Homo sapiens: one gene and its partners. The protein of the gene in region 4 interacts with the protein of the main gene of each other region in a pairwise test. Each region holds a gene or a part of one and is shown on either strand. Other genes may lie near its edges.

What was found.
Region 1: the proteins of INSR (region 4) and SH2B2 interact in a two-hybrid assay, tested with the Homo sapiens proteins (one study listed by BioGRID).
Region 2: the proteins of INSR (region 4) and DUSP18 interact in a two-hybrid assay, tested with the Homo sapiens proteins (one study listed by BioGRID and IntAct).
Region 3: the proteins of INSR (region 4) and STYX interact in a two-hybrid assay, tested with the Homo sapiens proteins (one study listed by BioGRID and IntAct).

The regions. Positions count from the first base shown.
Region 1 is NC_000007.14:102,310,632-102,317,914, forward strand, and holds part of SH2B2 (SH2B adapter protein 2), read left to right. Parts: intron 1-3,704; coding exon 3,705-3,796; intron 3,797-3,880; coding exon 3,881-4,051; intron 4,052-6,555; coding exon 6,556-6,764; intron 6,765-7,283. UniProt on the Homo sapiens protein: Adapter protein for several members of the tyrosine kinase receptor family. Involved in multiple signaling pathways. May be involved in coupling from immunoreceptor to Ras signaling. Acts as a negative regulator of cytokine signaling in collaboration with CBL.
Region 2 is NC_000022.11:30,664,874-30,673,151, forward strand, and holds the start of DUSP18 (dual specificity protein phosphatase 18), read right to left. Parts: upstream 3,003-8,278; 5' UTR 2,589-3,002; intron 2,066-2,588; exon of another isoform or gene 1,934-2,065; intron 687-1,933; exon of another isoform or gene 685-686; coding exon of another isoform or gene 620-684; intron 249-619; exon of another isoform or gene 82-248; intron 1-81. UniProt on the Homo sapiens protein: Can dephosphorylate single and diphosphorylated synthetic MAPK peptides, with preference for the phosphotyrosine and diphosphorylated forms over phosphothreonine. In vitro, dephosphorylates p-nitrophenyl phosphate (pNPP).
Region 3 is NC_000014.9:52,747,031-52,754,313, forward strand, and holds part of STYX (serine/threonine/tyrosine-interacting protein), read left to right. Parts: intron 1-3,652; coding exon 3,653-3,750; intron 3,751-7,283. UniProt on the Homo sapiens protein: Catalytically inactive phosphatase. Acts as a nuclear anchor for MAPK1/MAPK3 (ERK1/ERK2). Modulates cell-fate decisions and cell migration by spatiotemporal regulation of MAPK1/MAPK3 (ERK1/ERK2).
Region 4 is NC_000019.10:7,291,216-7,298,719, forward strand, and holds the start of INSR (insulin receptor isoform Long preproprotein), read right to left. Parts: upstream 3,200-7,504; 5' UTR 2,677-3,199; coding exon 2,577-2,676; intron 1-2,576. UniProt on the Homo sapiens protein: Receptor tyrosine kinase which mediates the pleiotropic actions of insulin.

The DNA of each region.
Region 1 (7,283 bases), on a different chromosome or scaffold from region 4:
CCGGGGGGAAGGGCCGCTGCTTTCTAATTAACAGCTTCATTTAAAGAAACACAATTAAGGTCCTGGGCGCCTCCCAGGCCCTGATCCACAAAGTGATTGTAATCCCTCCTCCACCGCCCTCCGGACCATCTGCTCTGCAAACTCTTTCCCCAGCCGCTGTGAAGGTGAACCTCACTTAGTGGAATTTTCGAGCTGGCAGGGTCCCAGACACCTCATGTCACAAATCGGGAGAGAAACCTTCCCACCCTCTGAGGGTCTGCACGGGATCCCAGGAGGAGCCCAGCCCCTCAAGGATAGTGGGCAGGGATCATGGGCCCTCAGTGGGGACTGTCCACTCAGTGGTATCCGGGCCAAGAGAGAGCCTTCCCCTGGGCTTTCTGAAGTTTCAGTGGAAAATCAATTTGCAAATGGCAGATAAATGAGAGAAAAGGCATACAAATTTATTTATTTATTTTTATTTTATTATTTTATTTTTTAGAGGTAAGGTCTTGCTCTGTCACCCAGGCTGGAGTACAGTGGTGCAATCAAGCTCACTGCAGCCTCGACCTCCTGGGCTCGACTGATCTGCCTGCCTCAGCCTCCCAAGTAACTGGGACTGTAGGCACATGCCACGATGACTGGCTTAATTTTTTTTTTTTTTTGAGATGGAGTCTCGCTCCATCATCCAGGCTGGAATGTAATGGCACAATCTCAGCTCACTGCAACCTCCACCTCGCAGGTTCAAGCAATTCTCCTGCCTCAGCCTCCCAAGTAGCTGAGATTATAGGCACCTGCCAACAAGCCCAGCTAATTTTTATATTTTTAGCAGAGACGGGGTTTCCCCATGGTGGTCAGGCTCGTCTCGAACTCTTGACCTCAGGTGATCTGACAACCTCATCATCCCAAAGTGCTGGGATTACAGGCGTGAGCCACTGCAACTGGCCTTTTTTTTTTTTTTTTTTTTTTTAGAGACGGGATCGGGATCGTGCTATGTTGTCCAGGCTGGTCTTGAATTCCTGGGTTCAAGAGACCCGCCTGCCTCGGCCTCCCAAAGCACTGGGATTACAGGCATGAGCCACAGTGCTTAGCTGCACAAGGCAGATTAATAGGAGAAAAAGCATGTAAATTTATTTAACGTGTATACATAGGAGCCTTCAGAATGAAGACTCAAAGATACAGGGGAGGGCTGGGCGTGGTGGTGCACGCCTGTAATCCCAGCACTTTGGGAGGCTGAGGCAGGCACATCACCTGAGGTCAGGAGTTCGAGACCAGCCTGGCCAACATGGGGAAACCCCATCTCTACTAAAAATGCAAAAATTAGCTGGAGGTGGAGGCGGGCCCGCTGTGATCCCAGCTACTCAGGAGGCTGAGACAGGAGAATTGCTTGAACCTGGGAGGCGGAGGTTGCAGTGAGCTGAGATTGCACCACTGAACTCCACTGGGTGACAGAGTGAGACTCAGTCTCAAAAAAAAAAAAAAAATCCCAGGCATGGTGGCTCATGCCTGTAATCCCAGTACTTTGGGAGGCCGAGGCAGGCGGATCACGAGGTCAGGAGTTTGAGACCAGCTTGGCCAACATGGTGAAACCTCATCTCTACTAAAAATACAAAAATTAGCTGGGCCTGGTGGTGGCATGCACCTGTAATCCCAGCTACTTGGGAGGCTGAGGCAGGAGAATCACTTGAACCTGGGAGGCAGAGGTTGCAGTGAGCCGAGATCACACCACTGCACTCCAGCCTGGGCAACAGAGGGAGACTCTGTCTCAAAAAAAGGATACAGGGAAATGGTCCATTTTTATGCTTAGGTTCAGCAAAGTATGGACAGCAGTGTAGAAAGAGGATTGGATACAAAGGGTAGGATCTAAAGGGAATAGACTGAGCAGGGGACCCAGCCAGGCCTGTCTGTCCAGATTCTTCTTGGCCTCTCTGAGTAGCATTCCTTCCTTCTGGGTGTGGGACAGAACCCTATCTTGAATGGGGGTCTTATGACCTACAGTCAAACCAGGCAGATTGGGTAATTTCTTTCTTTCTTTTTTTCTTTCTTTCTTGCTTTCCTTTCCTTCTTCCGTTTCTTTCTTTCCTTTTGTTTTTACTTTTTTTTTCTGCTCCGTTGCCCAAGCAGGAGGGCAGTGGGGCATGATCACAGCTCACTGCAGCCTCCAACTCCTGGACTCCATTGACCCTCCTGCCTCACCACCACGCCCAGCTAATTTTCTTTTATTAAGATGAGATTCTCAGGGCCGGGCGCGGTGGCTCATGCCTGTAATCCCAACACTTTGGAAGGCCAAGGTGGGCGGATCACCTGAGGTTGGGAGTTTGAGATCAGCCTGGCCAACATGGAGAAACCCCATCTCTACTAAAAATACAAAATCAGCCGGGCGTGGTGGTACATGCCTGTAATATCAGCTACTCGGGAGGCTGAGGCAGGAGAATTGCTTGAACCCCCGGGAGGCAGAGGTTGCAGTGAGCCAGGATTGCGTCATTGCACTCCAGCCTGGGCAACAAGAGCAAAACTCTGTCTAAAAAAAAAAAAAAAAAAAAAGACGTGTTCTTGCGGCCAGGTGCAGTGGCTCACGCCTGTAATCCCCACACTCTGGGAGGCCAAGGCGGGCAGATCACCAGTTTGAGACCAGCGTGGCCAACATGGTGAAACCCCATCTCTGCAAAAAATACAAAAAAAAAAAAAAAATTAGCTGGGCATGGTGGCGCATGCTTGTGATCCCAGCTACTCAGGAGGCTGAGGCAGGGGAATCACTTGAACCCGGGAGGCAGAAGTTGCGGTGAGCTGAGATCGTGCCACTGCACTCCAGCCTGGGTGACAGAGCAAGACTCCCATCTCAAAACAAACAAACAAACAAAAAAGATGGGGGTCTCGCTATGTTGCCCGAGCTGATCTCAAACTCCTGACCTCAAGTGATCCTCCCACCTCAGCCTCCCAGAATGCTAGGATTACAAACATGAGCCACTGTGCCTGGCTGGATAATTTCTTTATGACAAGTTTTTACATAGAATATTTTTAGGTTGGCCGGGCGCAGTGGCTCACGCCTGTAATCCCAGCATTTTTGGAGGACGAGGCAGGCAGATCACGAGGTCAGTTTGAGACCAGCCTGGCCAACACAGTGAAACCTCATCTCTACTAAAAATACAAAAAAATTAGCCGGGCATGGTGGCAGATGCCTGTAATCCCAGCTACTCAGGAGGCTGAGGCAGGAGAATCGCTTGAACCCAGGAGGCAGAGGCAAAGTGAGCCGAGATCGCGCCACTGCACTCCAGCCCTGGCAACAGAGTGAGACTCCGTCTCAAAAAAAAAAAAAGAATATTTTTAGGTTTTATGACTACGTTTTGGGAAAAGGGGTTCTGGTTTCTGTGACCCACCTTGGGAAAAAGGGACTTTTGTTTCTCTGGTGCCTCTGGGGAGAAGAGGACTGAGAGACAAGTAGGCAGGAGAAGGTCAGAGAAAAACTTTTTTGTTCGAGGCTGCTGCTGAGGACTTTGTTTTGCGGTATTGTTTTCTGAGCCCCAACAGTGGCCTGGTCAATCACACGGTGGCCACAGAGCCAGTGTAGGGTGGGACAGAGGGACATGGAGGCAGAGGGAGGTGACCAGAGCCAGGAGGCCTAGATGCTGGGCCATGGGACTGCCAGCCACTGCCTGGCCACATAAGTAGCCTGTGGTCCGAGTCCAAGTCCCACGGCAGGACATGGTTTCCATTTCTTGTCTCCACAGTGACAGTGAGGAAGACACCGAGCTCTCCTGTACCCGAGGAGGCTGTCTGGCCAGCCGCGTGGCCTCCTGCAGCTGTGAGCTCCTGACTGATGGTAGGTAGGGGGACAGGGTTGAAGGAGGGGCACACTCAGGGTGGACAGATAAAGATACGTGCATCTTACCTGCCACTTCCCCAGCAGTCGACCTGCCCCGCCCCCCAGAGACGACAGCCGTGGGTGCAGTGGTGACAGCCCCCCACAGCCGAGGTCGAGATGCCGTCAGAGAATCCCTGATCCACGTCCCGCTAGAGACCTTTCTGCAGACCCTGGAATCCCCGGGCGGCAGCGGCAGTGACAGCAATAACACAGGTGCCAGTGGGGACAGCCTGCTCTTCCCATCCCACCTCTCCTGGACCCCCACCCCCAGCCATGGCCACCCATGGGCTCCCTAAACCTTGCTAAGCCTCAGAAGCTGTGACATCTCATCCTCCTGGGTCCTTCACACGTCTCCGAAGTACTTCTGGCTTTTGTAGACTGGTCTAGGAACCTGGCCCCTCCCACTGGACCCAGTTTCAATAGAAAATGTTCACAGGGGCCGGGTGCGGTGGCTCACGCCTGTAATCCCAACACTTTGGGAAGCCAAGGCGGGCGGATCACCTGAGGTCAGGAGTTTGAGACCAGCCTGGCTAACATGGCAAAACCCCGTCACTACTAAAAATATAAAAATTAGCTGGGTGTGGTGGTGCACACATGTACTCACAGCTACTCGGGAGGCTGAGGCAGGAAAATCACTTGAACCCGGGAGGCGGAGGTTGCAGTGAGCCAAGATCACGCCACTGCACTCCAGCCTGGGCGACAGAGTGAGACTATGTCTCAAAAAAAAAAGAAAGAAAAGAAAATGCTCACAGGGGCTGGGTGCAGTGTCTCACACCTGTAATCCCAGCCAGTGTTTTTTGAGGCTGAGGATCACTTGAAGCCAGGAGTTTGAGACTAGCCTGGACAACATAGCAAGACGCTATCTGTACAAAATTTTTGAGACAAGAGTCTCACTTTGTTGCCCACGCTGGAGTGCAGTGGCGGATCACAACTCACTGCAACCTCCACCCCCAAGTCCAAGCAATTCTCACGTCTCAGCCTCCCGAGTAGCTGAGATTACTGGTGCCCGCCACCTCGCCTGGCTCATTTTTGTATTTTTGGTAGAGATGGGGTTTTGCCATGTTGGCCAGGCTGATCTTGAACTCCTGCCCTAAGTGCTGGAATTATAGGTGTGAGCCACCACGCCTGGCCACAAACATTTTTGTGCCTGTAGTCCCAGCTACTTGGGAGGCCGAGGTGGGAGGATCACTTGAGCCCAGGAGGTCAAGCCTACAGTGAACTGTGATCACACCATTGCACTCCAGCCTGAGCAACAGAGAGAGACCCTGTGAAAAGAAAAAAAAAAAAAAAAAAGAAAAGAAAAGAAGAAAGGAGGGAGGGAGGGAGGGAGGGAAGGAAGGAGCTCACAGAAAAGGGTCCATAGGGTTGGAATCAGGGATTGGGAACAGGCGACTGGATTTGTTCCTAAGTTTGCTGATGACTTACAGAGTAACTCCAGGATAGTCCTTCACAGCTCTGTGCCTCAGTTTACCTCATAGACTTCACCAGTGGGTTGGGTCAGCTCCCTGCCCAACTCTAAAATTATTCCAGCTGGGCACAGTGGCTCATACCTGTAATCTCAGCACTTCAAGCAGCCAAGGCAGGAGGATCGTTTGAGCCCAGGACTTCCAGACTAGTCTGGGCAACAAGACTCTGTCTCTACAAAAAATAAACAAAAATTAGCCAGGCATTGTGGCACAGGCTTATAGTCCTAGCTACCCAGGAGGCTGAGGTGGGAGGATTGCTTGAGCCCAGGAGGCCAAGGCTGCAGTGAGCTATGATTGTGCCACTAGACTTCAGCCTGGGTGACAGAGCAAGACCCTATCTCAAAAAATAAATAAATAAATAAAATTATTTGGCTGGGCGCAGTGGCTCACACCTGTAATCCCAGCACTTTGGGAGGCCAAGACGGGCGGATTGCCTGAGCTCAGGAGTTAAGACCGGCCTGAGCAACATGGTGAAACCCTGTCTCTACTAAAAATACAAAAATTAGCCTGGTATAGTGGTGCATGACTGTAATCCCAGATACTTGGGAGGCTGAGGCAGGAGAATCACTAGAACCTGCAAGACGGAGGTTGCAGTGAGTCGAGATCACGCCACTGCATTCCAGCCTGGGCAACAGAGCAAGACTCTGTCTCAAACAAAAAAATATTCAGGCCAGGTGCAGTGGCTCACACCTGTAATCCCAGCACTTTGGGAGGCCAAGGCAGGAGGATCACTTGAGCCTAGGAGTTTGAGACCAGCCTGGGGAACACAGCAAGACTCCATCTCTAAAAAATAAAAAATAAGGCTGGGCGCAATGGCTTACACCTATAATCGCAGCACTTTGGGAGGCCGAGGTGGGTGGATCATCTGAGGTCAGGAGTTTGAGACCAGCCTGACCAACACAGTGAAACCCCATCTCTACTAAAAATACAAAAATTAGTTGGGTGTGGTGGTGGGCGCCTGTAATCCCAGCTACTCGGGAGGCTGAGGCAGGAGAATCGCTTGAACCCGGAAGGCAGAGGTTACAGTCAGCCACCGGGATTGCAGCATTGCACTCCAGCCTGGGCGACAAGAGCGAAACTTCGTCTCAAAAAAAAAATAAAAACTAAAAACCAACCAACTTTTTAAACATTATTCCAACAGCATTTTGCATGTAAAAAAACCAACAAGACGTCACCTCTCTTCTCACATTTATTTATTTGTCCCCCTTTCTCCTTCCCCCCATGTTCCTCACACTGTCATCCCCACCTCAGGGGAACAGGGTGCAGAGACGGATCCCGAGGCTGAACCCGAGCTGGAGCTATCCGACTACCCATGGTTCCACGGGACACTGTCCCGGGTCAAGGCTGCTCAACTGGTTCTGGCAGGGGGGCCCCGGAACCACGGCCTCTTCGTGATCCGCCAAAGTGAGACTCGGCCTGGGGAGTACGTGCTGACCTTCAACTTCCAGGGCAAGGCCAAGGCAAGTGTGTGGGGGGCGCCATGGGGGTGCAGTGGCCAGCCCTGAGGGAGAGGGGTCATGGTGACCCCGGTCCTGAGGCTGTGCCCTGGAAGCAGCTGCAGGCGAACAGGTGTGGCATGACTTCCCACGGGCCCCACTCACCCCAGCCATGCTCCGTGAGCCACCTGCGTCCCTCCTACACATCACTGAGGGACTGCAGTCAGCCCTATTTCAGCCTCTGCATTCTCCAGAAGGGGAGGCCACCTACTGGCGGCTGAGCCCTCAGGAGGCTGGGCCCTTCTAATAACCCAAATTTGCAAATCCTTTCAGCTCCTGCGCGCGGGGGATCTCATAGCACTGGAGCTTCGGAGGGTCTCCACCCAGAGATCGCCCAGTGGGGGGTGGGAGCCAACCAAGGCCCTCAGAGCCCCACCTTCTGCCCCACCGACCTCAGACAGCCCCTCTTCCCTGCCCAGGTTAGGTCACCAACCCCTGAGGAACACACACGGGCAAACCCTAGAGACCCAGCAGGGGAGGAGG
Region 2 (8,278 bases), on a different chromosome or scaffold from region 4:
AGACCTGCCACACCTGCATCATGCTGCCTGCAGCAGAGCTGTGAAACACACCCCAGGGAGAGGCAGACCCCTTCCCTTCACCTGCTCGATAGGCTCAGTCGCCGCTAAGTAATTGGGGTAGAGGTTCAGCCGCAGATCTGCTTCCCGCGCCGCAGACCGTGCAGTCGTCGGTGCTCCTCAGGTGCGGCCTGGGTGCCCAGAGCATTCATTAGACTCTCGGACCCTCACTTTCTCAGTCTTAAACAAAGCTGCAAAAACCAGGACATCTTTATACATTCCGCTGAAATAGGGACATTTGGATTTAGATCACACCTTTCAAGGCCAAGTGGCAGTCTTCACCAGGCACGAGAAATGAGGAGCCAAAGTTTTGTTTCCCTGCTTAATATATTTCAGTGGCTATCCACTGTGAGGATAAGATGGAGCCACTTAGTTTGGCTGTCAAGGCCATTTGTGACCTGGCTCCTGCCTGTCTCTCCAGCCTCTTATTAGGCTTCTCCATGCTCTGAAGGGCCTCAGGTGAACCGAGCCACTTACAGTTCCTTAGGGACAACCTGTCCTCTCCAGCCAGTGGCCTTTGCCCCTGCTGATCTCTCAGTCTCTTTCCTTATGAACCCATCAGATCCTGATCTGGTCCATTCAGCAGAGGACTGCAGAAGTCTGAGGAGCCTTAAGATATCAACTTAAAGGTAACTGTTTTAAGGGAAATCTCCTTAGATCACACCCCTCCCTCACGTTTGACCAACTCTGCTCCAGGCTTTCTTAGCCCTATGTTCTCTCCTTCCTAACACTTACTGAAGACGTAGTTTTGCTCCGATCTGTCTGATTATTTGATTAATGTCTGTCTCCCCAAGAGACTGTGAGCCCTTTAGGGATATGATGGTGTCTGTCTTCACTCCCACTCTATCACCAACTAGTGCCAAGCGCTGTGTCCCCACAAGTAGGTGCTTGATAAATATTTGTTGAATGAAGAAATGACTCCCAACAGCTATGACTCTGCCTTCTGAGAGGTTTTCTGGAAAGAATGAGTTCTCTGGCAGCGTGTCTCCAGAATTCCAGGGAGGGGCTGGGTGGGGATGGGGGTGGTTCTGAGGCTACTAAAGAGAAAGACCAAAGGTTGTATAGGCAAATCCTACCTGCCAATGCCCCAGACTCAAATGCATCAGGCTCATTCCCGGAAGGACAGAGAGGGCTGGCTTGCTACAGAGGTGATATGAAGGGCAAAGAAAAAGCCTCCTGAACCCAGATGGAAGTCTAAATGCTAAGGAATGTTCTGGATCCTCGTCATCAGAAAATCCATAGAGAAGTGAACTGATGTCCCCCCAAACCAGTGCCCAGTGGGTAACGGGAATAGAGGAATGTGCTGTTCATTATAGCCACTAAAAGTCTGCAGAAGTGACAATGCTCTTGCAGGTGAGGGTAGTGATGCGAGGAGTCATTTTCATGCTAGTTAAGAAATATCTATCAGGGCTGGGCACGGTGGCTTAAGCCTATAATCCCAGCACTTTGGAAGGCCGAGGCGGGCAGATCACCTGAGGTCAGGAGTTCAAGACCAGCCTGACCAACATGGTGAAACCCCCGTCTCTACTAAAAATACAAAAATTAGCCAGGCGTGGTGGCATGGGCCTGTAGTCCCAGCTACTCAGGAGGCTGAGACGGGAGAATTGCTTGAACCCGGGAGGCGGAGGCTGCAGTGAGCCAAGATCGTGCCACTGCACTCCAGCCTGGGAGACAGCGTGAGACTCCATCTCAAAAAAAAAAAAAAAAAAAAAAAAAGCAATCTCTATCAGGCACTGTATTAGGTGTTGGAGATACTGAAATGTACAAGACAGGCATGGCCCCTTTTCTCAGGGAGCTCAAAGACTAGTGGGAGAAACAGATAGTAAACAGGCAATTACAGGCAGACAGAGCTTGAAAATAGGATAACAGTACCTACCTTAAAAGGATGTTGTGAAATTAAACGAGATAATCCACGTAAAGAGTTTTCTCAGGGCTTGGCATAGAGTAAGCCCTCTCAAAATGATAACTATTTTTCTCGCTTCTGATAGGGAAGTTAAAATGCAGGGCTCTGTGAAAGGGAAGTGTAAAAAAGATTTCTTCCAGGTCGGAGCCTAGGGAGTCGCAAAGACCACCTGAAGAAATCACAAAAGATCTAAAGAACGTTTAGCTTGAGAGGGAGGAGGAGAAAAAAATAGCAACTCGGTAGCAGTTCAGCTTCACCACTTTACAGCCTATGAAGTATTTGGCTTCCCTCATCTGGTTCGATCTTCAAAGCAACCTAATCAGACCGGCGTCTAGAGTTAATATTTCCATTTTACAAAAGAGGAAAGTGAGACACAGCGCGGAAAAGGACTTGTTCAGAACGAGTCATAAAGCAAAGAAGCCGACCTTTATGGTCCATTATGTGTGGGAAAAATGAACAAACACCGCGGGGCGTTCGTGAAATACTAAGTTATAAACATGGAACAAAGTCCAAGAGTTAACGAGAGCGAAGCATCACTTCTAGGGGTGGGCCGGGTAGGTTTCCTAGGGGAGCTGGCATTGGAATAGGCTTCTTCGCCTGCTTAGTGTCAGGACCCCCAGGGTTTTACCTCTCTCCTTCAGGCGGGTGGGCGGGTTCGCTCAGGAAGTAGCCGCTTGGGGAAGCCTTAGGCAAGGTTCTTCGGGAGAGAGACCCGTCATGATCCCGCAGCCTCAATCCCCGCTGGCCTAACGCTTTGGTTTCCATAGCAATGGGCTCGTCGCAGAAAGGAATAGCCTGTGCCGGGTCTTCAGAGAAATCCTGGCCTCGGCTCCACGCCCCTGAGCAGCCCCACCCTGGCTCAACCTGTTACCCGCCCTGCCGGCAAGCCGGGGTCACTGCAGTCCCCGTGGCGAAGCAGGGTCAGCTCAGCTCACCGCACCCCACTCCATCCAGCCCTGCCCATCTCTACGGCAACGGGCCGGGTCGCACCAGGGCTGCAGCCGAGAGACAGTCTCACCGCTTCCGTAGCCGCCCGGGCTCTGTGCGCATGTGCGACACTCCCTCCCCGGCCCCGCCCCCTTATGCGTCTCCCAGGCAACGCGCCGCGCGGGGCTCCAGGTTCCGCCCAGGGACTAACTCCAGGTCTGCGCGCGTCCAACGAGCACGGCTCTCAACCGGCCTCCTGGCGCCCAACGACCATGGCTTCCAACCGGCCTCCGTGCGCCCAACGACCATGACTCCCAACCGGCCTCCAGTTTCCAACTGTTTCTCGAACAGGGAAGCCGCCATGACACAGCTGACTACGCCCTTGGTCACAGGGGACCTGAGATCCTCCACGATTTACGGGACCGGCGCCACCTCGGGCTCGAACCACCCTCTCGATAGGGCCGCCGCTAAGTAATCGGCGTAGGGGTTCAGCCGCACATCTCCTTCCCGCGCCGCGGACCGAGCAGTCGTTGGTGCTCTTCAGGTGCGGCCTGGGTGCCCAGAGCCTTCGTTAGACTCTCGGACCCGCAAGGGAGCCCGAACTCTTTCAGACTCGCTCTCCCTCAGCCGGACCTCGGCCCTTTTTCACACCCCAGGGGAGTCTGGATTTCTCATAGTCCTGGGCACCAGCCCCTTCCCAGTCTAGCTCTTGGGACTCCCTGAAGCCGGAACTCCCTCGCCTGGACTCCCGGGAGAACCTGGAATCCCCATCTCCAGTCCACATTTTCTCAGAATCTGTCCTAGCCCTTCAGTCTCCCAGGCATGACATCGTGTGGTCCCAGCGCCCTAGGTGGTGAGCTGTGACTCTCCTTAGAGCCTGGCGAGGCCGAGGTCCTCCCCAGCTCGAACCCATCCCACACTCCCCTTCTCAGCCTCTGTGTTCCCCAGTGGTCCTGGAAAAGCCCCCAGTTCCCTCTGCCTGGCCCCAATCCTCACAAACCCAATTACCCACGCTCCTTTCCATTCCATAACCCCCATCACTGCATCCTCCAGGCTCCCATCCATGGAGGACTTGAGGTGGAAAGCAATTTGGTTCAAAATAACCATTATTTATTACTTGAAAGGGAATATTTCCAGTCGTTGCCAGCCTCCTCCCCTTCTAGTATTGGTAAATTTTTTGCACCACTGAGTGGGTGAAGAGTTTTATGCGTCTTTAAATGTTTTAAGGATTTTTTTAAAAAAACAAAAAACTCTCAGGATTTGGGGGACTTTTGTGTTTGAGCATCTTGATCTCTAAACCAGCTTTTTCCATCACCTCACACCTAGGCTATGCATAGAGGTCAGAAAAATGTAAATGAGAGATTGAGAAGTTGGATTGTTCATACTAGTTTGTAAATATGAAAACATTCACAACACTCCAGTTCCAAATAGGCTGAAAATGCATTAGAAAAACTAGTCCTTCAATATTTTTTATCCTTCTACAGTTGTCTTTTTTGACCCAATTATAAAAGTAGTGTACACTTATAGAAAAATGAGGACAGGCATGGTGGCTCACGCTTGTATTCCCACCACTTCACTTTGAAACGCTGAGGCAGTTGGATCACCTGAGCTCAGGAGTTCGAGACCAGCCTGGGCAACAGGGTGAAACCCCATCTCTACCAAAAATACAAAAAATTAGCCGGGCTTGGTGGCTCACCTGTGGTCCCAGTTACTCAGGAGGCTGAGGTGGGAGGATCACTTGAGCCTGGGATGTGGAGGTTGCAGTGAGCTGAGATTGTGCCACTACTCTCCAACCTGGGGGACAGAGTGAGACCCCGTCTCGAAGAAATAAAAAGAAGACAAGACAGGCCAGCAGCATAAGTGGCTAGGGACAATCACTGTTAACATTTTGGTGTATTTTGATCAGAATCCATTCATATATATATATATATATATATATATATATGTTACAACATGCTTATACTTAAAAAAGATACATCACAAAAGTTCACTTTTTAGTAACCTGCTTTTTTCTCCCATCTAATATACCACCCGTCTATGTTTCATACACAATTACATGTATTTTATTTTATGACATACCAAAATTTATTCAATTGCTTCCATACTGTAGATTTTGTTTCCGCATTTTAGAAAGAAAATATGAACAATTTTTTTTTTGAGACAGAGTCTAGCTCTGTGGCCCAGGCCCGAGTGCAGTGGCACAGTCTTGGCTCACTGCAACCTCTGCCTCCTGGGTTCCAGTGATTCTCCTGCCTTAGCCTCCTGATTAGCTGGGATTACAGGTGCTCACCACTACACCCGGCTAATTTTTGTATTTTTAGTAGAGATGGGGTTTCACCATGTTGGCCAGGCTGGTCTCGAACTCCTGACCTCAAGTGATCTGCCCACCTTGGCCTCCCAAAGTGCTGGGATTATAGGCCTCAGCCACTGTGCCTGATCCTGAAGAATTATTTTTAAATGGGCAAAACCATTTAAAGGTATTTATTTGTAAGACTACTTCATGGTGTAACCAAATTATCAAAAAGTGAAAATGCAGTGCTTAGAAGTATATCCACTCTTCAGCATTTCCTCATTTTGACCAGATTGTTATATTTTCACCTGGAGTACCTAGCTCCATTCTACCCCACCCCACCCCATGTTTCACCTCACCTTTCAGAGTCTCCTAAAACCCCTGTCCACCCCACACCTCCCTATTCTAAATTTTCCCCAAACCTTCTTCTGGAATTCCCCTATTAACCAGCCTAACATCTGTCCAAACTCTTACTTTTATTTCTCCCTGCTCTGATCTATACTCCCCCAAGCCCCCGCCTCCCAGATCCCCTTTAGGCACAGGGTCTAGAGCAAGTGCTCCCCAAGCTAAACACCTCTCAAATTCATCCTTCGAACCCTACTCTACAACTTTTACTCCTCCCCTCTAAGACCCCTCTCTCCCATTTCATCCTTAAGAAGGATCATCAAGATGACTGCTTTTGGCTGGGTGGGCATGGTGGCTCTCACGCATGTAATCCTACCACTTTGGGAGCCCAAGGCAGGCATATCTCTTGAGGTCAGGAGTTCGAGACTAGCCTGGCCAACATGGTGAAACCCCGTCTCTACTAAAAATACAAAAATTAGCCAGGTGTGGTGGCGCATGCCTGTAATCCTAGCTGCTCGGGAGGCTGAGGCAGGAGAATCGCTTGAACCCGGGAGGTGGAGGTTGCAGTGAGCCGAGATTGTGCCACTGCATTCCAGCCTGGGAGACAGAATGAAACTCCATCTCAAAAAAACAAAAGACTGCTTTGGAAGATGGTTCTGAGTTCCTGATAACCCTTCTCTTGTGGACTGCACTGGGGCCCTTTTACAAACACAGAATTGCTTTTCTTCTGGGTGTCCATGAAACACCCCTTTAGCATATCTTTCCACAAGAAGAAACTGTGGTTACTCCCTTGCTTCTCTGAAAATTGTAACAGAGCTGCACTTGTCCTAAGATACCCGGGGAAGCCTCAGCCACTCCCCCAGGACCCTGTCAAATCTGCTCTGGCCCTGGCCTCAGCCATCTGTAACCTGTGTCACCTTTCCCTCCCCGCTCCAGCTTAATGATTCCAGTGAAGCAGCAGTGAAAAATTTTTTACTCATATAAAAAGAGCAGTTTATCTTGGGTGGGTTTTTATGACAAGCTCATAGCACAACGACTCCATGAGGTGCAGGTAAAGTAGCCACAAGCTTTTGCATTAGAGGGTGTTAGTGGCTTGACCCATATTCATTTCATTCTCTCTATATCCTGGGGGATCATAAAGGTGATAGGAAGTCCCCAAGGTGCTCTAAGGCAGGCCCCGTTTTACAGAGGAGGCAATTCACACTCAGGGTTACTGACTTGCCCAAGGTGTCACACCTGTTCCTAGGCTAAGGAGGCTAGAAAGACTCCATGTCTCTTGGTTTTGTTTTTGTTTTTGTTTTTCCTGAAAGCACATTATCTCTCTAGGGAACCCATGAATGGATTCTTATTTTCTCCCATACAAAGTCTTGGGTTCTAGGCTGGGCGCGGTGGCTCATGCCTGTAATCCCAGCACTTTGTGGGAGGCAGGACGGTCACTTGAGGTTAGGAGTTTGAAATCAGCCTAGTCAATGTGGCGAAGCCCCGTCTCTACTAAAAATACAAAACTGATCTGGGCATGGTGGTGGGTGCCTGTAATACCAGCTACATGAGAGGCTGAGACATGAGCATTGCTTGAACCGGGTGGTGAAGGTTGCAGTGAGCTGTGATAGTACTCCAGCCTGGGCAACAGAGCAAGACTCCGTCTCAAAAAAAAAAACAAAAACAAAAAAACAAACAAGCAAAAATAAATAAATAAAACCCCCAAAAAACTAAGGTCTTGGGTCCTAGAGTTTGAATCAGCATTAACAGCATCTTGTCAGTTTTTTCCTTTGGGGATTATCCCCATTTTCCAGATGAGAACTGAGGCTCTTCTCCCACTTTTTGCTTATGGACAGGTAAGAGTTTGACTCAGGCTTACTCAAAAGCCTGAGTGCTGTCACCTACTGTTCCCATAGACCCTAATTGATGAACTCATTAAACCTGTCCTTAGGGCCTGCTTGGGACAGCTACTGTGTTGGGTGCTAGGAAGAGACACATGAAAAAGATGGACACCAATAACATACTCATTTTTTCAAACAGAGCAGGAAGCCCAGGGTTGAGCTTCTGCCCCTTCTTGACTCTGTTGACTTCTCTCCATGTTCCAGGGTCAAGTCTGGATGGGCCCACAGGATTCTAACATCAAAAACAGTTGGAGATCCTTAAGAGATGGTGCCAGATCCTCTTGAAGGTCACAAAGACAAAAGCAGAGCAGAGACCTGGGCATTTCTGCCTCTGCTAAACTTCCAATGGTGGGATGTAGTGGAACTAGATGGGCAGGCCAGCTTTGTGTGACCTTGGGTGAATCACACTTCCTCCAGACTCTGCTTTCTCATTTGTAAAAATAGGATCTATTAAGATCCTCTCAGTGGCAGGTAATATAAACTGAACTTGAACTAGTTCAAGCAAAATAGAGAAGTTGGGTTTACATAATCAAGGATGGATAGGGCACAGTCGCCAATGTTTTAGGGGAGAGAAGCCAGGGGCTGTACTACCACCAGGTATGTCTTCCATTCTGTCTTCATTGTCTTTATATTGTGTCTCGTCTCGTCCCGTCCCATCCCGTCTCGTCTGTTTGAGACACGGTCTCACTCTTGCCCAGGCTGGAGGCCAGTAGCATGAGGCTCACTGTAGCTTCAACCTCTTGGGTTCAAGCAGTCCTCCCACCTCAGCCTCCCAGGTAGCTGGGATTACAGGCATATGCCACCATGCCTGGCTAATTTTTTGAATTTTTAGTAGAGATGAGGTTTCACCACATTGCCCAGGCTGGTCTCAAACTC
Region 3 (7,283 bases), on a different chromosome or scaffold from region 4:
TGGATTAGGGATGCTCAATTATAAGTATAATGCAAATAGGCAAAACAAACAAATCCAAACTCTGAAATATTTCTGGTCCCTGGCATTTTAAATAAGGGATATTCAATCCGTATAGATATTCTACATAGTCAAACTTTAATGGACTTACTCAGTTGCAGTTAAAATAGGTAGATCTCATTTTAATAAATATAGCAATGTTCTTGCCACTTCTAAAAGATTCAATGCTACTAATTCTCTTTGAGTTACAACGTGGAACATATCATAGATGTCTTTCCCCAATACTTTGCCTATTCAGAAGTCAGTATACTTAAATTGTGTTTGATATATCCATAATTTAATTTGATGTTCTTAGGAATTTAACCGGTTTTAAAAGGTCATTGATTTTGAAACTGGAAGATTTTTTTGACAGTTGAGACATGGCTAAGAGTAAACCTGGTCATCTTGATGATTTTTGCTTAGTTGGAAAGATAGGGAGTTAGTAAAAATAAGTACTAGGGAAAGGATAGGGCAGGTAACTATAGACATAGCCGTAATTTATTTTGTAAAAGACAGATGTAAACAAGGTTATTGTCCATATAATTTGCTATTCACCAAGTACTAGTCTTCCAGATGGTTTTAGATAATTTACATTTTTGAAATTCCCACTGTACTTTATAAATATACATACAGTATTTATCACATTAAATTAAAGTATTTGTTTAAAGGTCTATCTCCTCAATGGGAGGCTGAGGCAGGCGGATTACATGAGGCCAGGAGTTCGAGACCAGCCTGGCCAACATGGCAAAACCCCGTCTCTACTAAAAATACAAAAATTAGCTGGTTATGGTGGTACACACCTGTAATCCCAGCTACTCGCGAGGCTGAGGCGCGAGAATTGCTTGAATCTGGGAGGTAGAAGTTGCAGTGAGCCAACATGGCACCACTGTACTCCAGCCTGGTTGACGGAGTGAGACTTTGTCTCAAAATGAAACAAAAACACGCACAAAAAAAGGTCTAGTTCTTCAAAACTTCTTTTCTTGAAATGTCACCATGGTCTTATTAGACAGGAAAAGCCTCTGTGGCAGTTTATTTCCCACCCTAGGTAACCATAATATAGCCCATATTTCTTTTCATACCATTATCTAAAAACAACAACAAAAAATAATAATGGAGATAAACCTAAATGGATAAACTCCTTTTTAAACACTCATTTACTGTTATTATTTTGTGGGAGAGGAGTGGGGTCTTGCTCTGTTACCCAGGCTGGAGTACAGTGGCGCGCTCTCATAGCTCACTGTAACCTCAAACTCCTGGGCTCAAGCTGTCTTCCCACCTTAGTCTCCCAAGTAGCCAGGACTACGGGCACACACCACCATGCCTGGCTTAATTCTCAAAGTTTTTGTAGAGATGGAGTCTGGCTATGCTGGCCACATTTACTTAAGTATATCTTTTTATTAAATTCAAATACAGTTTAAATAAAAGGGACAAATTTAGGGCCTTTGTAATTAGTAAACGGTTTGTTTTTGTAAAGTTTTTCTACTGTTTTTAAATGTGAGGTAAGGTCATAATTTGCTTCATATTAGGTTGGTGCAAAAGTAATTGCAGATCTGCCTCTGAAAAGTACAAAATCTATTCGCTGTTACGTTAGGGCTCTATTTTGATAGTTTATTTTTATTTAGTAGTAGTCTATTGGGCCTTCAAAACTTGTTTAAGCATATTTATACATAATTATGTGCATCGTCTTGTGCTTTCTCACATTCATAAAGTAGATAGGAAAACTCCATAGGCATCAAGTGTAAACGAAGGACTTAATGTTGAATTTGTTGTGGAAATTGGCACAAATCTCAATATAGAACATTGGTTAATTATTAATCTTACCAAATGCTTATCTCACTTTCCCTAACTCAAGTTATACTCAAGAAATACAAAGATAATTGAATTCTAATCTATGCTGACATAAAACTTGCTGCAGAAATTAACACTTAAAACTTGCAAATTATATTGTCTTAGCCCAGGCTGCTCAAACAAAATACCATAGACAGGGTGGCTTAAACAACAGACGATTATTTGAGTTCTGGAGGCTGGCAAGTCCACAGTCATGGTCCGGCTCTGGTGAGGACCCTCTTGCTGGCTCGCAGATCCCTCCCTTCTTGCTGTATCCTCACACGGCCAAGAGAACGAGTTCTTGCCTCTTCTTACAAGGGTACAATCCTGTCATGGAGGTTTCTACCCTCATGACCTCAATCTAAAACTGATTATCTTCCAGAGACTCCACCATCACATCTTGGGGGTAAGGATTTCAACATAAGAATTTGAGGTGATGCAAACATTTAGTTCATAACACATATAAATTATTTTTTTTTACTTTGCTCATGAATTATTAGTGCTACTGTTTTGTACTATTTAAAATGCAGAAAATGGGAATTAAATATATAGGATTTAAAACAATGTGTCAAGAAATTCAAGGTTATCTGATTCTCATGCCATCGTGACTTGTTAGTTCATTTATTGAACAGGTAATTATTGAACAACTTAACTAGTTATACATACTTGATACTTAAGTGAATTGTATTATACATTTTACACATACTATGTATCAGTGAACAAATAAAAATCTTTTCTGTCATGGAACTTAATGCTCTAGGTAATAAAATAACATCTATAAACTCACTTAAACTTATCACTAGCAAATGAAAACTTATTATCTGGTAATTTCTAGAATTGTCATGTTAAATTGCTTTAAGTATGGAGCCAAAAGCACTACAGGTTGAGTATCCCTAATCTGAAAAATCTGAAATGCTCCAAAGTGAAACTTTTTGAGTGTCAGCATGACAGCACAAGTGAATTCCACACCTGACCCCATGTAATGGGTCACTGTCAAAATTTTGTTTCATGCACCAAATGACTGTATGAAATTACGTTCAGAGTATATATGGTGTGTGTGAAACATAAATGAATTTTGTGTTTAAACTTGGATACCATCCCCAAGACATCTGAGTATGTATATGCAAATATTTCAAAATCTGAAATCTGAAACACTTCTGGTCCTACCTTGGGACCAGCATTTTAGATAAGGGATACTCAACCTGTATTGAATATAATAAGATGTCATTGAAGTTGCCATTTTTAACTTCAGGAAAATTTTTAAATGGTAAAAGGTTAATTAGATTCTGTGAAGTATGTAAATTAATTCTGACTCTTAAAGTATACTGGGAGAGGCAAGGAGTTGTCTAGAGATTTGGGTTCCAGTACTGCTGTTAACTAGGTCGGTGATGTCCAAGTATTTGGTAATGTAACTGTTTTATGTCTTAGTGGTTCTCTCTAAACAATAAAGATTGCAGTCAATATATATTAACTACCATTTATTAAACACTTGCTGTGTGTCCCAGGTGCTATGCCAAACATCTTACATAAAGGTTCCATCAAGCTCTAAAATTGTAGGTATGAAATATCCCTGTTAACCTTTTGAGGACATTAATGTATTAATCTTGAATCATTGAAATATCTTGCTGCCCACTTCAGGTATATTATAAAATTAGCTTTAATTCCCTGGACTTAAGCAGAGATGTGGGTTCTGTGTATTTTCAAACATCTGTGTTATATAGTAAGATGATGTTTGATATTTTAAAATATTTATCTTCCCTGTCCTCCCCCTGCTTTTTTTTTTATACAGCTACCTGTACTACAGAAACATGGAATAACCCATATAATATGCATACGACAAAATATTGAAGCAAACTTTATTAAACCAAACTTTCAGCAGTTATTTAGGTAAGAATTATTGCTATGATTTGTAAAACACTTAATGAAGTTTCATTTCAGGTTTTGTACCATCAGTTGTTTCTGTACATATCTAGTTTGTAAAAATGGGTCATATAGTACATAGTTTTTTAAAATAAATTTTACTTAAAATACTTAAATAAATTATGCCCATAATGCAGAATTCTAAAGGTTCAAAAGAGTGTATATTGTCAAGAAGTTTCTGGGAAAGTAAAAATAAAAAAGAATTTAAAAATAATGTATACTGAAAAATAGGTTTTAGTGTACATTATTTTATCTCTTGAGGGATAAAGGAATTGAGTATCTAGGGGATAGGTTTAGGGAAACAGCATCTACTGTTACCTCTTTATTGGGTAGTTTTTGAGTGTTAGGTTAAATTTATGAGCATAGTCTTATAGATAAATTTTTTTTTACATTGGCTTTCTTTTTTACTTTATATTTTTTGGAGATTGGTTTATATCGGTATGTATATCAAACTGCTTATTCTTTTTAAGTTGCATTGTAATCCATTGTATGGCTATACTAAAATTTATTCAATTAGTCTGTTAGATATTTAGATTGTTTCTGGCCTTGTACTAATATGTATAGCATATAGTGACTATCATTGTACATATTACTCAATTTATATGTGAGCATATTGATAGGGCTTATTTGCAGAATTGCTGGATATAAGAGTATGAACATTTTAAATTTTGATAGATGTTGCAGATTGTTTTCCAGTGCGTTGTATCAGTGTACATTCCCATTATCAAGTATGTGAGAGTGACTCTTCCCTTAGTATCTCTCCAAGACGGAATTGTGAAACATTTTTAATTTCTCAAAGTCTAATGGAGTAAAAATGGTATCTCATTTGATGTTCTTATTTATCTTGTAAGTTCAGTTGAGCATGTAATGGTTTTTAATGTTCTTTATTTTAACTTCATTTTTAAAATAGAGTATATTACGCATGGTACAAAAGTGAAAGGATATGTAAACATATATAATGAAAGTAACTCTACTTTTTCTCTTAACCCAAGCCACCTTGCTCCTATCCTGGGAGGCAGCTTCTTCCTTCAATATCTATGTAAAAGTATATATGTTAAAAATATTTTAGGCCAGCACGGTGGCTCACGCCTGTAATCCCAGCATTTTGGGAGGCCGAGGTGGGCAGATCACCTGAGGTCAGGAGTTCGAGACCAGCCTGGCCAACATGGCAAAACCCCATCTCTACTAAAACAAAAATTACCTGAGCGTGGTGGCACATGCCTGTAATCCCAGCAGCTCAGGAGACTGAGGCAGGAGAATTGCTTGAACCCAGAAGGCAGAGGTTACAGTGAGCCGAGATCACACCACTGCACTCCAGCCTGGGCAACAGAGCAAGACACCGTCTCAAAAACAAAACAAAACAAAACAAAAAAAAAACAGCGCTGTGGCTTACACCTATAATCCCAGTACTTTGGGAGGCTGAGGAGGGTGGATCACGAGGTCGAGATTGAGACTGTCCTGGCCAACACAGTGAGACCCCGTCTCTACTAAAAATACAAAAATTATCTGGGCGTGGTGGCACATGCCTGTAGTCCCAGCTACTCAGGAGGCTGAGGCAGGAGAATCACTTGAACCTGGGAGGCAGAGGTTTCAGTGAGCCAAGATTGCCCCACTGCACTCCAGCCTGGCGACAGAGCAAGACTCTGTCTCAAAAATAAAAAAAAAAATTTAATGCTCTGCTTTATTTTTACAATGAAACCAATCTATAAATATCTGTAAATACAAGATACATACTCTAAAATACATTGTGTGAACATATAATAGAATACTATGTAACCATGAAAAAGAATGAAATATATGTATGTGTTTGGATTTGGGATGATCTCCAAGATAATGCATTACATGAATAAAGCAGGGTGTGGAACAATGTATATATTTGCAATGTGTTGAGTAAATATATATATACTACATTCCATATATTTATTCTTAATATATGCATAGAAAATTTCTGGACCAAGAGGCTAGAAACTTCATAGTGATTGCTTCTAAGAAGGAAAATTCAGGGCCTGTGATGGTAGAGGGACGTATTTTTCTTTCGTTTTTAATTTTGTTTTTTTTTGTTGTTGTTGTTTTTTTTTTTTTTTTGAGATGGAGTCTCACTCTGTCACCCAGGCTGGAGTGCAGTGGTGTGATCTTGGCTCACTGCAACCTCTGCCTCCTGGGTTCAAGCGATTCTCCTGCCTCAGCCTCCTGAGTAGCTGGGATTACAGGCATGTGCCACCACACCCAGCTAATTTTTTTTTTTTTTTTTTTTTTGGACAGAGTTTCGCTCTGTTGCCCAGGCTGGAGTGCAGTGGCATGATCTCGGCTCACTGCATCCTCCGCCTCCCAGGTTTAAGCAATTCTCTGCGTCAGCCTTCTAAGTAGCTGAGATTACAGGTGCCCACCACCACTCCCAGATAATTTTTTTTGTATTTTTAGTAGAGACGGGGTTTCAGCATCTTGGCCAGGCTGATCTTGAACTCCTGACCTCTTGATCCACCTGCCTCAGCCTCCCAAAGCACTGGGATTACAGGTGTGAGCCACCGCACCTGGCCTAATTTTTGTATTTTTAGTACAGACGGGGTTTCACCATGTTGGCCAGGCTGGTCTCGAACTCCTGACCTCGTGATCTGCCCACCTCGGCCTCCCAAAGCACTGGGATTTACAGGCGTAAGCCACTACGCTCAGCCGAGGGACATATTTTTCATGGTACCCTTGATATCCATGGGGGATTGCCTCCAGGAACCCCCATGAATAACAAAATCCTCAGATGCTCAAGTCCCTTATATAAACTGGTGTAATATTTGCATATAACCTGTGCACATTCTCTCATATACATTAAATCATCTCTAGATTACTTCTAATACTTAGTACAGTGTAAGTGCTGTGTGAATAGTATTGGATTTTATTTTTATTATTTTTAGTGTTGTATTTTACCTTATTTTTTGTTAATGTTTTTTATTGTTGTCGGTTGAATCCACAGGTATGAAATTCTTGGATATGGAGGGCTGACTCTTTACTTTTGTAGTGTTTTTTTTTTACACCATATTTAGTTTATTAAAACTAGTTATTAAAAAGGAATATCCCAAAACACTGATTTTTTTTTTTTTTTTTTTTTTTTTTTGAGACAGAGTCTCGCTCTGTCATCCAGGCTAGAATGCAGGGCTCACTGCAACCTCTGCCTCCCAAGTTCAGGCAATTCTTCTGCCTCAGCCTCCTGAGTAGCAGAGATTACAGGCATGTGCCACCACGCCTGGCTAATTTTTGTATTTTTAGTAGAGACGGGGTTTCACCATGTTGGTCAGGCTGGTCTCAAACTCCTGACCTCGTGATCCGCCTGCCTTGGCCTCCCACAGTGCTGGGATTACAGGCGTGAGCCACTGCGCCCGGCCTGAATTTTTTATAATTATGAAAGAAATACTTTTTTTTTTTTCAAAGATAGGATCTTTCTCTGCTGCCCAGCCTGGATTGCATTGGCATGATTTCTGTTCATTGTAGCCTTGACCTCCCAGGCTCAA
Region 4 (7,504 bases):
CTCGGACTCAAAAGAACAAAGATTTGTTAAGAAACCATTGCTCTGCAGCCACACTAGCTAGATTGCAATCCCAGCCCTGCTGCCTGCTGGCCTCAAGCGAAGTTTTCTCACTTGTGAAAAGGGAAGATTAAACCGCACCTCGTGGGGTTTTGCCGTGAGGATTAACTGAGATTATATATGCAAAGCGCATAGAACAGCACCTGCTGAGAGCTTGCTCTTCTAATTCTTAGGAAGGTATTATGCAGAGAATAAGGAACTCCTTAAGATGATAAAGGAGCCCAGTACACCCAGGAACTCCACCACTTGTGCCCCACTGCAGAACAAATATTTACTGAACACCTACTATGTGCCAGGCATCGTTCTGGGCTCTAGAAATGCAACGGTGAACAACAACAAACCATAAACCCCTGCCCATATGGAAGCCATAAATGTGCAAAGAAATGGTAAATCCATTTACTGACCCTGAAAGCCCAGGCACAGATCCACAATTAATTACCAAAGCTACAAGGAACAGAAGAACAGGGAACCACACACACGCACACATAGAATCTGGCATAGTTCGAAACCACTCATCTTGGATTTTCTTTTTATTTATTTATTTATTTTTGAGACAGAGTCTCGCTCTGTCGCCCAGTGGCACGATCTTGGCTCACTGCAAGCTCCGCCTCCCGGGTTTACGCCATTCTCCTGCCTCAGCCTCCGGAATAGCTGGGACTACAGGCGCCCGCCACCACGCCCGGCTAATTTTTTCTATTTTTCAGTAGAGACAGGGTTTTACCGTGTTAGCCAGGATGGTCGTGATCTCCTGAACTGGTGATCCACCCGCCTCGGCCTCCCAAAGTGCTGGGATTACAAGCGTGAGCCACCACGCCCCGCCTTTTTTTTTATTTTTTTGAGACAAAGTCTCGCTCTTTGGCCAGGCTGGAGTGCAGTGGTGCCATCTGAGCTCACAGCAACCTCCTCCTCCCGGGTTCAAGCAATTGTCCCGCCTCAGCCTCCCAAGTAGCTGGGACTACAGGCGAACGCCACCAAACCCAGGTAATTTTTGTATTTTGAGCAGAGAAGGGAGTTTCACCATGTTGGCCAGGATGGTCTCCATCTCCTGACCTCGTGATCCGCCCGCCTCAGCCTCCCAAAATGCTGAGATTACAGGCTTGAGCCACCGCAGCTGGCCAGATTTTCTTAACAAGAACTCCAACTAACCGCCACCCTTCATTGAGCACCTACTGTCTCCCAGGCACCTGGGGGCGGGGCTGGGGGGGGGTGGGCCCGGGGCTTTTAGACATTATGTGATTGACAGAGTCGACTCAGCAAACCCGGTTGGTCCACTCTAGCACCTGATTTTACATGCACCCGTTTCCCCATCAATACATTTAAGAGCTTCAATTCCTTCCCTCCCTGACCCCTTCCTCATCACGACTGATTTCCTTTTATGGAGAAATCTGAAACAGTAACCCAACAGATATTTTTAAAGCAGGGCCTCAGACCCCACAGTGGGAAACCCAGGCTATATTCCTTAAATGATTGCGCCATCTTCATCTTACAACCCCAAAGGTGCCTATTGTCAAGCCCAAGGAAGATGCTGCCCACACGTGGGAGAGGGGCCCATGGGGTCAGGGGGAACGAAAGGCTCACTCAAGGTCAAAGGCTCCTTCATGAAGCGCAGGGCTGAGGGGAGAGGAGGGGTCAAGGAGACAGCAGACAAGGGACAGTAGTCCAGATTCTTGGGCAGAACGGGACACACAGAGGCTCAAGTCCTGGCTCTGGCACTGACTTTAGGGCAAGGGAGTTATGCGTCCTACATGAGCCTCAGTTTACTCCTCTGTGAAATGGGTGCATAACTGTATCTGCCTCCGGGGGCCACTGTGACAGTCCAGAGAGATAAGATAGACTAGGCTGTGGCGTGCGGTGATACCAATTACAATAAATAGGGTAAAAAACCGCCACTACTTCTGCTACAATTGCTGCTGTTGCTAAGGCTTTAGAATTTGCCTCCGGACATCTGGAAACAGAACCCAAAAGGGTAAACATGGACCTAGAGTCCGGGGTGGCCACGGGCCTAGATCCAAGGTAGTTGGGTAGAGGGGGGCTCTGCAGTCCCTGACCCCAGGCAGCGTCACCCACCGGTGAGGCACTCAGGGCGCTTGGCTCTACCTACACCATATGCGCTCGGGGGACTTGGCTGTTCGGGGCTGTCCAGACCCAGTGACCCCACTTCCCGGCCGCGACCCAAAGATGACGCGTGTCGTGTCTCCGGAGCGACTTGGGCTCGGAGGGGCCGGGGCACGGGTCGGAGGCGCGCTCCAGAGAGGAGCCCGCGGCGGGGCGGGCACCGGGGCAAGGTTCCTCGGGCTCAGGTCGGGCACGCAGGGCGCGGAGGCGCGAGCCCGGGCGGGCAAAGGCCAAGGTCAGAGGCTTCCCGCTCCCCCTACGCGATGCAGGAGCTACCGTCCTGGCCACCGCCCCCCGCCCCTGGGGAGGGTTCTCAGTCCACAAGCGGGGGCTCGATTTTGGCTTGGGTGGGGTCCTCTCCCCATCGCGGCGCTCCCCGCCCACGCCCGCGCCCCCAGACTCACCCTCTCCGGGGTACAGGTGGCCCGCGGCGCCCAGTAGCAGCGCGGCCACCGCCACCAGCAGCGGCGCGGCCGCCGCCCCCCGCCGGCCCCCGGTGGCCATGGCTGCGGGAGCGCGGGGTCTCCTCGGATCAGAGCGCGCGGCGCTGGCCCGCGGGGGTCATGCTCCGAGGCGGCCACCCAAGAGGCGCTGGGGGCCGCGCGTCCTTCTCTTCCACGCCCGCGACCCGCGGGCCGCAGCCCCCCTGCCGGGGAGGGCCCAGAGGCAGCCCCGGGAAGGGCGCGCGCGGCTTCGCCAGCTACAAATACTGAGCGGAGGCCCTTGCGGTGGTGGCCCCGACCCCCCGGCCGCTGCGGCCCGGGCCCCGTCCCAGGATCTCGGGGCCCGGAGCTCCGCGCTGCGCCCGGGACTGTCTCTCGGCTCTCGGCCCCGCGCGCTCTGGGTCGCGATCTGCGGGCTCCGGGACAGAGGGACGCGCGGACCGACGGACTAGCTGACTGGCGGGCGGGCACCTGGGCTGGCGGGTGGCGGGCGGGCGGCGGGAGAGAGGGCTGCTCGGGCCCGTAAACAACGCGGCCCGTCAGCTGGGCCCCGTGCGGGCCGCGGGAAAAGGCGGCGCGGATCTGGCCTAGGAAGGGACTCTGCGCCCGGGAGAGGCCCAGGAGAGGGAGGGAAAGCTTGCAGGGGAGGGAGGTGCCGCCCGGCCCCGCCCCGCCCCGCCCGCCTCCCCGCCTCCCTGTGCCGGGCCCCGCGCGGGAGGCCCTGGGCGCGCCGGGACCGAGGGCGCGCCCCAGATCCGCGCGCCCTACAGCCCCGAGTCTCCTCCAGTTTCAGACCCCCGGAGGCGCCCCACAGGCCCGACGCAGCGGCACAGATCCTTTCTCTACCATTTTGCTATTTTGTTCATAGTGGGCTTTGGAGGATTCCTGTTGATTTTTTAAAAAATACTGCATTAAAATGTTTATTTTGGTGACTCGAGGTGGTTTTGGTTTCTTTCTTTTTTTTTTTTTTTCACTCCCTTAAATTTTGCACCCCAGGCGAGTAGTGTCTCACTCGCCTTTCCTCAGTCCGGGCCTGGCCAGCGACACTCGTCCCAGAGCGCGTGGGCGCCCCCAGATGTCCCGCCCGCGAGTGCGCCCCGGCCCAGGGGCGAGACCCAAGCCAGGCCCCTGGGGACAGCCACGTGCCCGCGTGCCCAGTGCGCTCCCTGTGTTCAAGTTGGAGAAATGACACCTGGAAAAATGTGCAGACGCTTCTGAAAGGGCAAAGACGACGCCAAAGAAGACGCCGGAGACCTCGAATAGGGCGCAGGTGGACATCTCTGATTTTCAGCAGACCAGCCTGTATGTGTCTGAAGTCTAGCAACGACATTCACCAACAAGGCGGGACAGCGGTTCCACCTACCTTACTGCAGGAGAGGAAGGGGCTTTCAGTATAGGAAAGCCAGAACTCAATGGGAGGAGGGTTCCTCCACCCCTCACTCCTGTGTGGTCTTGGACCAGGGACTTTTCTGTCTCTGGGCCAGTTTCACTTGTGTAATGGGTTTAATAATACCTGCATGCCAGTTCTGGGGAGGTACCCGGGAAAGAAAACTTAAGAAAGCGCCCAGCACAACCCTAGACCCAAGGCATTCATTCTTCTTTCATTCAATAAACAGTTTGCTAGGAGCTGGACCCACTGTTCATGCAACAGGCCAAACCTATTCCTGCCTCTGGGCCTTTGCCCCAGCATTTCCCTTGCCCGTAACACTCCAGGATGGCTTCATCTCTGAAGTGCCATCCCTAACCATATTTTTGCAAATCCTCCCCCCAGTTCCGTTTCCTTCTCTCTCTCTCTCTCTCTGTTTTTTTTTTTTTTTTTTTTTTTTTTTTTTTTTTTTTTTTTTTAGATGGAGTTTTTCTCTGTTGCCCAGGCTGGAGTGCAATGGCCAGATCTCAGTTCACTGCAACATCACCTGCCTGGGTTCAAGTGATTCTCCTGCCTCAACCTCCCAAGTAACTTGGATTACAGGCATGCGCCAGCACACCCAGCTAATTTTCTGTATTTTTAGTAGAGACAGGATTTCACCATGTTGGCCTGGCCGGTCTCAAACTCCTGACCTCAGGTGATCCACCGGCCTTGGCCTCCCAAAGTGCTGGGATTACAGGCCTGAGCCACTGCGCCTGGCCCCTTCTCTCTCATTTTCATAGCATGTTTACCCCACTACCTGCAATTGTTTGTTTTTTTTTTTTCTTTTCTTTCTTTTTTTTTCCTTTTGACAGAATCTTGCTGTCACCCAGGCAGGAATGCAGTGGTGCAATCCTAGCTTACTGCAGCCTTGAACTCCTGGCCTCAAGCAATCCTCCTGCCTTGGCCTCCCAAGGTGCTAGGATTACAGGCATGCGCCACCATGATTGGCCTTGAAATTCTTATTCGTTTTCTGTGTCTTCTCCCCTTCCCGTGAAGGCGGAAATCTTTTCGGTCTTGTTTCACTGCTTAAACCCAGTGCCTGACAAATCTGTTGCTTAATAAATATTTGTTGAGTGGGAGAATCAACAAGCAATAAGTAATAGGGGATTTTTCAGTGAGCAAAATAAACATGACCCATTTCCTTATGGAGTTCACAACTGAGCCAGGGAGAGAGCCCTTAAAATAATTGAGTGTGTAATGAGCTGAGGGAAATGGGAGGTGCATAGGGAGGGGTTTGCTGAGGACATGGGGTTTTTTGTTTGTTTGTTTTTTGATGGATCTTACTCTGTTGCCCAGGCTGGAGTGCAGTGGCACGATCTTGGCTCACTGCAACCTCCGCCTCCCAGGTTCAAGCAATTCTCCTGCCTCAGCCTCCAGAGTAGCTGGGATTACAGGTGCATGCCACCACGCCTGCCTAATTTTTGTATTTTTAGTAGAGGCAGGGTTTCACCATATTGGACAGGCTGGTCTTGAACTCCTGACCTCAAGAGATCTGCCTGTCTCGGTCTCCCTAATTGCTGGGATTACAGACGCGTGAGCCACTGCACCTGACTGAGGATGTGATTTTGAGCTTAAGTCTGAAAATGAAGAGGAGCCATCCTAGGGAAGCCATAGGGATGTGTTTCAGGTGGGGGAAGGCATGAGCAAAGGCCCAGAGGAGAGTGGGCAAGGCATTCTTGCAACTGAACCAGGCATTCACTGTAGCTGCAGAAAAGAAAGAGGAGAAAGTGAAGCCATGGGTGAGAACTGCAGTGGGCCCTTGAACATGAGTTTGAACCGTGCACATCTTTTTTTTTTTTTTTTTTGAGGCAGAGTCTCGCTCTGTCACCCTGGCTGGAGTGCAGTGGAGCAATCTCAGCTCACTGCAATCTCCACCTCCAGGGTTCAAGCTATTCTCCTGCCTCAGCTTCCCAAGTATCTGGGACTACAGGCACACGCCACCTCACCCGGTTAATTTTTGTATTTTTAGTACAGACGGGATTTTACCATGTTGGCCAGGCTGGTATCGAACTCCTGACCTCAGCTGATCTGATCAGCCTCCCAAAGTGAGGTCATCTTTAAACAGAATGTTTTTCAATAAATATATTGGAAACATTTTTAGAGATTTGCAATAGTTTGAAAAGACTTGCAGATGAACTTGGTAGCCAAGAAATATTAAAAAAAAATTAGGTATGTCATGAATGCATAAAATATATGTAGATACTAGTCTGTTTTATTATTTTTGTTATTATTTTCTTTTAGAGACAGGGTCTTGCTCTGTTGCCCAGGCTGGAGAGCAGTGGCCCAATCATGGCTCACTGTAACCTCCAACTCCTGGGTTCAAGCGATCTTCCTGGCAAGCACCAACACGCCCGGCTAATTTTTTTACTTTTTATAGAGACGAGGTCTCACCATGTTGCCCAGGCTGGTCTCTAACTCCTGAACTCAAGTGATCCTCCTGCCTCTACCTCCCACAGTGCCGAGATTACAGGTATAAGCCACCATGTCCAGCCCTATTTTATAATTTGCTAACATAAAATATACACAAATCTGTTACAAAAAGTTAAAATGTATTAAAACGTACACACACACTTACAAACCATACATGGTGTTATTCCAAGTCAAGAGAAATGTAAATAAATGTAAAGATGCAGCATTCAATCATAACTGCATAAAATTAACTATAGAATATATTGTGTTATTGTAACAATTTCATAGCCACCTCCTGTTGCTACTGGAGTGAGTGCAAGTGTTGCAAGTATCCGCTTTAAATGCCATGTTACATTAATTATCTCCCTGTGGGCAGTTCACCTCTCCAGGAATTTGTGCCCCGGTAAAAAGGGATCTCTTGGCGGTTCCCGCGTATTTTTCACTGTGTTTAGTGCAATACCGCAAACATTGAATAACATCCTGAGACCCATGTAAAGTGCCACTAGTGATGCTGGAAATGCTCCCGAGAAGCAGAGAAAAGTCAGGACAGGACAAGAAAAAGTTGAATTGCTTGCTACGTAACATAAATGGAGCTCTACAGCTGCGGTTGTCTGCTTCAGACAGACAATTCATCTTGTAAACAAATTTATGGCATTGATAAATATTGTAGCGTTCTGTAACTGTAAATGTATTTTCTCTTCCTTGTGATTTTCTTTTTCTTTTTCTTTTTTTCTTCTTTTTGGAGACAGGGTTTCACTCTGCTGCCCAGACTGGAGTGCAGTGGCACCATCAGGGCTCACTGCAGCCTCTACCTCCTGATCTCGGGTGATCCTCCTGCCTCAGCCTCCCAGGGAGCTGGGATTACAGCCACATGACACCATGCCCAGCTGTGATTTTTTAAATAACATTTTCTCTTCTCTAACTTGCTTTATTCTAAGACTGTAGTGTGTAGAGGCTGGGCACAGTGGTTCACTCCTGTAATCCCAGCACTTTGCAAGACAGAGGGAGGCGGATCACTTGAGGTCAGGAGTTCGAGACCAGCCTGGCCAACATTACAAAACCCCATATTTAC